2 linked regions of the Homo sapiens genome follow. The protein of the gene in region 1 purifies or fractionates together with the protein of each later gene. This does not show direct contact. Each region holds a gene or a part of one and is shown in the gene's direction. Other genes may lie near its edges.

Evidence for each region. Proteins that work in one complex are often made in the same cells at the same time.
Region 2: the proteins of ARHGAP35 (region 1) and PRP4K purify together in Homo sapiens (affinity purification with mass spectrometry, with the first as the bait; one large-scale study listed by BioGRID). This does not show direct contact.

What each region holds. Positions count from the first base shown.
Region 1 is NC_000019.10:46,912,997-46,916,496, forward strand, and holds part of ARHGAP35 (rho GTPase-activating protein 35), read left to right. Parts: intron 1-3,500.
Region 2 is NC_000006.12:4,034,800-4,038,299, forward strand, and holds part of PRP4K (serine/threonine-protein kinase PRP4 homolog), read left to right. Parts: intron 1-2,597; coding exon 2,598-2,771; intron 2,772-3,500. UniProt on the Homo sapiens protein: Serine/threonine kinase involved in spliceosomal assembly as well as mitosis and signaling regulation. Connects chromatin mediated regulation of transcription and pre-mRNA splicing.

The sequences.
Region 1 (3,500 bases):
GAAAATTGTGATAACAAGTATTTTACTTCCTTTGCTTGTAGTTCTGTATGAAATTATTTCCTTACAGTGTTACTAGTTGGTGGTGTTCTGTATGTGATTATTTGAAACTCAGTGTGTTTTCAGAAGTTGTTGAATATTCTCAGGTGGAGATGGTCATTTTTATTATGGATAATGGTGGAAGATTTTTGTCTTAGGGGGCATTCTAGATTACAGAGCACACAAACATTTCCTACTTCGGGGAGAGAGGGATGAGGTTGCTGTGTTGGAAGAGTGATACACACGCTGTGTTGGAAGAGTGATACACACACTTCCAGGCGTATGCTGATAGAGCTGTTGACAGTATGAACTTTCCCAGTCATAGTAAATCTGGGATCACGGTGGCATTTCTAGGTCCTACAAAAATGTGTGCTATCTTGGGAATGTTACCACTTCTTGCCCTGAGTGTTTCATAGAGGTGTTAAAAAAGAAAACACCCTCCTTCTACCTTCCAGTTGCGGCACTCTGGTGGGGACCTTGTGTCTTGGTTAAACAAATCACAAACAACTCTAGATGCTTGGTGACAGTCTGAAGAAGGCACGTAGATATTTGCATTATGTTTTATTACAGCATGTATTTGTGACTGAGAAACCAAAATACTTCTGAAGTATTTTCCTCTCTGAAGTAGTTGACTCTTGGCATAAAATGGGAAACTTTGAAGTCCTGTGTTTCTGTTTTTCTAATGAAATATCTCTGTACAGCTCAAAGATAAAAGTAATTACCATTTTTAAAGGATCCTTCTTTCCCCTCTGTTTTAACTCTTCCATTTAAAAAGGATTAGCACTGGAAAATTATTAGAATGGACATTCAGATTCTGTTGTGTATCTTAGTTGCCTGCTAAGAACACTGGTTCCCATCACATTTAAACTCTAAAGACATTGTGAAGTCTGGATATGCCCGGTCTCCTACTTTCTCTTTCTTTGTGGCCTTCAGATCATTAAATTTAGTGACTCAGCTAATTTTTTTTACCCACCTCTTAGAACTAAGTTGAATGTATTTGTGACCAAGCACTTAAAGTTATTTCCTCTAAACCAAGTGTTTGAGATGTTTTTAGATTTATAACAGTCTTTGTTTACCGTGTAATTCAGTCCAATTGAGGAACTAGTAAAACTGCATTATCTAGACATCAAAGCTAAGAAGAGTATACTTACACCAAGAAACTTATTAGGTTTCTAACAAGTGGAAAGTTACCAGGTGTCCCAAAATTAACCACTTCCATGCCAGCTGATTTTCACTTTTTGTAGCTATTTTAATGATCAGCAGCATTCTGGGTTTAAAAATAACAGTCGTGGCTGGGCACAGTGGCTCGTGCCTATGATCCCAGCACTTTGGGAGGCTGAGGTGTGAGTGGGAGGATTGCTTGAGGCCAGGAGTTTGAGACCAGCCTGGGCAACATAGCAAGACCCCATTTCTAAATAATAATAATAATAATAAATTAGCCAGGCATGATGGCTTGCACCTGTAGTCCCAGCTACTTGGGATGCTGAAGTGGGAGGATCACTTGAGCCCAGGAGTTGGAGGCTGCAGTGAGCTATGATTACAGCACTGCACTCCAGCATGGGTGACAGAGCAAGACTCCATCTCATAAAATAAAATAATCAGTTCTACATTATTCAGAGTTGAGTGTTGCTTTCTTTAGCATCCTTCAAATAACTGAAAATATGCCATTAAAAAATATAACCAAGGTGTTGAATGGATAATACATTTTAGTTCATTTCAAAATAGAGCCAATATCTTTATTTCTTGAGGTTTGAGAGCAGGCTGGTGTTTTGTTCTGTTTTTCCTTCAGATTTCTGTGAAGGGATAAATATTAGACCCACTTTACAGAGAACAGTTGAGTCACAGACAAGGGATGACTTGCCAATTGCATGCAGAGGTCACTTTAAGTAGGACCAGTGCTACCAAGTTGCATTTCAAGATTGGTAACCTTAAGACCTGACAGACCCTGGGGTCAGGAATTGATAGAGAAGGACTCTGTTAGATGAGGACCCATGACTTCCTCAACCCTTCATCAGCACTCCTGTCTGAGGCTCTGTTCAACCTAAGTTTCTTCATGGATTGAAACAAAATTATATGTGCATATTACAGAGTAATTGATTGTGTACAGATGCTTCCTTTAGGTATTTCAGAGGATGTGTGTAAACATGCTTTAGATATTCATAAGCATCTTATAATTTTGTTTATGTAAGCAATCGCCTAGAAAAGTAGAGGATGCGAAAGGTTTGTTTTTCTTTCCCGTGGATACCTTGCTTGTTCCTGCTGAATTCTAGAACATGGCATCTTTAGGAACATGCCATTATCTGGAGGCAATTGCCTACAGTCATTGAGATTTTTCTTTTTAAAATGTAGTTTTTGCATACTACGTCTAGTCACATTTTGTTTCCATAGAGGGTTTGGCTTTCTGGGATATCAGAAGGAAGCTATGGATGTTTGGAAAAGGTCTGTGACCTTTTGAGGTTATCATCACAGGGGACAATTGCACTCTCCCATTCATTGCTCCCTGGTGTCAGTCAGAATAATGCGTGGTGGTCTGACTTCCAGTGGCATTTCTTATGCAATAGGCTTACAAAAACATAATGAGGTCATGGCAAGCCTAGGTTCCTACAGACATAAATGAGATTCAGAAGAAAATTGCTCTGTTCATTTCAGATTCTCCTCTTTGTGATTGTCTTGAGAGAATGTTCATTTGGCTGCAGGTTCAGTGCTTGCACAGTTATATTGGAGTATCTAAGTAAACTGAAGTGCAGCATAAACTGTCGTAGCTGGAAAGTTGCTAAAGACTGTAAGCCATAACAGTTTGTTTAACTTAAGCTGTTAAAACTTTAGGTTCTTTAAGGTGCCATTTTTTTGGCCACATTCTGTGGTTCCCCATAGCCTTCAGGAAGGAATCCAAACTCTTTTTTTTTTTTTTTTTTTTTTTTAAGATGGAGTCTCGCTCTGTCGCACAGGCTGGAGTGCAGTGGCGTGTCTCGGCTCACTGCAAGCTCCACCTCCCGGGTTCACTCCATTCTCCTGTCTCAGCCTCCTGAGTAGCTGGGACTACAGGTGCCCACCTCCACACCCAGCTAATTTGTTGTACTTTCAGTGGAGACGGGGTTTCACCATGTTAGCCAGGATGGTCTTGATCTCCTGACCTCGTGATGCATCCGCCTCGGCCTCCCAAAGTGTTGGAATTACAGGCGTGAGCCACCGCGCCCAGCGAAGGAATCCAAACTCTTAAAGTGGTTTGATCCAGTCCCTGGTTCCTTGCTAATGCATCTTACCCATTCTTTCCCCACACACACTTTGTTCCAGTTGGTTCTCCCAACTGGCAGTGCTTTTTTTTGCGGAGGGAAGGGTCTGTGCACACTCTGTCCCTCTGTCTTAAATGCACTTCATACTTCAGGTCTCACCTGAGATGGAACTTCCTACAGAAAGGCTTTCCCGAATCTGAAAGGCTGGGCTTGGGGACCTTTTAATATGCT
Region 2 (3,500 bases), on another chromosome or scaffold:
CCTCCTGGGTTCAAGCGATTCTCCTGCCTCAGCCTCCCAAGTAGCTGGGATTACAGACACGCACCACCATGCCCAGCTAATTTTTGTATTTTTAGTAGAGACAGGGTTTCACCATGTTGGCCAGGCTGGTCTTGAACTTCTGACCTCGTGATCCGCCCACCTCGGCCTCCCAAAGTGTTGGGATTACAGGCCTGAGCCACTGTTTATTTTCATTGCATTTTAGCAGACAACACTCTGTTCTTTTTATACTAGTTTACTTTATCCCATCCATTTATATATACATATATATACACATATATGTGTGTTGTTTTTGTTTTGTTTTGTTTTGTTTTTTTGAGATGGAGTCTCGCTCTGTCGCCCAGGCTGGAGTGCAGTGGTGTGATCTTGGCTCACTGCAACCTCTGCCTCCTGGGTTCAAGCAATTCTCCTGCCTCAGCTTCCCCGAGTAGCTGGGACTACAGGTGTGCGCCACCACGCCCGGCTAATTTTTTTTTTTTTTTTTTTTTTTTTTTTTTTTTGATATTTTTAGCAGAGATGAGGTTTCCCCACGTTGGCCAGGCTGGTCTCGAACTCTTGACCTCAGGTTATCTGCCTGCCTTGGCCTCCCAAAGTGTTGGGATTACAGGCGTGAGCCACCGCACCCAGCCCATTTATATTTTTTAACTGGTCTTTTGAGGCTGTGCGTGTATGTGAGCAGATTAAATAAAAGAGTTTCCTCAGATGGCCCTATCAAGAAGTAAGCACTACCAAGAAGTAAGCACTACAGATCTGAATCAAAGTCTACCTTGCTCATTTTGGCTGGATCAGAGAAGGATTCTTGGGTTCTGTATACCGTGCTGAAACATGCAAGGCAGGTTGTGTTTTTAGGTTTTTATTAAATGAGGAAGGCAAGTTGCAGTGGCTCACGCCTGTGTTCCAGCACTTTGGGGAGGCTGAGACGGGTGGATCACCTGAGGTCAGGAGTTCGAGACTAGCTTGACCGACATGGAGAAATCCTGTCTCTACTAAAAATATAAAATTAGCTGGACGTGGTTGCTCATGCCTGTAATCCCAGCTACTCAAGGCTGAGGCGGGAGAATCTCTTGAAGCCGGGAGACAGAGGTTGCAGTGAGCCGAGGTCACACCATTGCACTACAGCCTGTGCAACAAGAGCAAAACTCCATCTCAAAAAATAATAATAATAATAAATGAGGAAAATACTGTAATATTATTTGATTATGGAGACAAACCTATTTACAATCTGACTGTTCAGATTGAATAGTTGTGACCAAACCTGGAATAACATTAAGAAATGTTCAAAACCTGTTTTAAAAAATTAAGCTGTAGAAAGGCCTGTTGTAATACAAATATCACATTAAACAAGAGTAAAACTCACTGAAAGGTACTTGTGTGATAAGTGTTGAAAAGTTGGGTTTTTGTGGGGTTTTTCTGGGGAGACTGGAGGCAGGGTCACACTCTGTCACCCAGGCTGGAGTGCAGTGGCATGATCTCTGCTCACTGCAACCTCTGCCTCCCAGGCTTACACAATCCTCCCACTTGAGCCTCCCTATTAGTTGGGACTATAGGCACATGCCACCACACTTGGCTAATTTTGATATTTTTTGTAGAGATAGGGTTTCGCCATGTTACCCAGGCTGGTCTCAAACTCATGAGCTTAAGTGATCCATCTGCCTCAGCTTCCCACAGTGCTGGGATTACAAGTGTGAGCCACCACACCTAGCTATTGTTTTTGTTTTTTTGAGACAAGTTCTCACTCTGTCACTTGGGCTGCAGTGGCACAAACACAGCCACTGCAGCCTCAACCTCATGGGCTCAGGCGGTCCTCCCTCAGCCTCTGAAAGTGCTGGGATTGCAAGTGTAAACCATTGTGCCTGGCCTATTATACTTGACATTAAAAAGAAGATTTTTGCCCGGGCATGGTGGGTCACACCTGTAACCTCAGCACTTTTGGAGGCCAAGGGAGAACCACTTGAGGCCAGGAGTTCGAGACCAGCCTGGGCAACATAGTGAGACCCCCATCACTACAAAACAAAATATTAGTCAGGTGTGGTGGCATGCCCTTATGGTTCCAGCTGCTCAGGGGGGCTGAAGTGGAAGGATTGCCTCAGCCTGGGAGGTCAAGGCTGCAGTGACCCGTGTTTGCGCCACTGCACTCCAGCCTGGGTGACAGAGTTAGACCCTGTCTCAAAAAAAAAAAAAAAAAAAAAAGATCCTTAATTGGAGAAATGTCAGGATGTAGAAAGAAAAAGTCGTCAATGAAAATGGAATATTTGAGTAAATGGAGTATTATACTCACTTGGGGAGGTTTTATTTGAGTTGGTTTATTTGAAATTAGAATCAGTGACTTTACCGGTATGAATAACCTTTAGTAATTTTTCAAACTGTGGGACCAGAGGAAATAAGACCTTTCATTGTTTGCCTGCAATAACACCAAAATATCACTGTAGTCACCTGAGTAAGTTTTGTTACAAAACACATTAATCAAAGTTCACTTTCTTTAGGCTAATGTGCCTTTTCTTACAGATGTTCTTTGCATATAGAAAAAAATCATTTACTTTGATTTATATTTCTTTTAACTTGCATTTGATCCCCTTAAGAACACGACCTCGAGATGATATCCTCAGTAGACGTGAAAGATCAAAAGATGCCAGCCCCATCAATAGATGGTCTCCAACCCGAAGAAGAAGTAGATCTCCCATTAGAAGGAGGTCTCGTTCCCCACTCAGACGTAGCAGGTCTCCAAGAAGAAGAAGCAGATCTCCTCGGAGAAGGTAAAGACATTTCATCCTTGTGATTCATTAAACTCTGAATGTTTTTGAACCACCAGTGAGCTCACTTGGTAGGTTTTCTTTTAGACCAGTTTTCTCTGAAAAATCGTAGTTGTGTTCCCATAGTTTCCTTTTACCAGCAATCTCTACACATGGGTTTTCTTTTATATCGTTTCCTTTGAATTTTAAACAAATCATTGCTCATTTAGGATGCAATAAAATTAGTCTTTTAAAAATAGGACTTTTTTCTCTCTTTTATCAATCAATACTAAATGAGCCAGACTTAGGGATTTTTTTTTTTTTTTAACCAGCAAGGTAGATCATGTAGTAGTAAATATATAGCCCAGTTTCTTACATTTTATATTAATTTTGCATATTGATAGTTACTGTAGACTTAGGCAAAGGCCTATTTAATTTGCCATAGAAACCATTTTATCTGAAGCATATGTAGTCAGTAATAGGTTAAAAAGGTGGTTTATAAAGCAGGGAATCATTTTTTAAAATTCATACATACATGAAATATTTTAATATAAAACATAAATGGGTATTTGTTTGCCAATCTTTTAACATTTTTAATTGAAGTAATAAATGAATATAATTTTTAAGAAACAAAGGCTTATATTATAGCCATCTTTACATATCTCTCAGAATTTTTGTATGCTGTATTCCTAGAAATGGAAATGCATGGTCTGAGTGCACTCTGGTCAATGAGGGGTTTTATTTTATTTTATT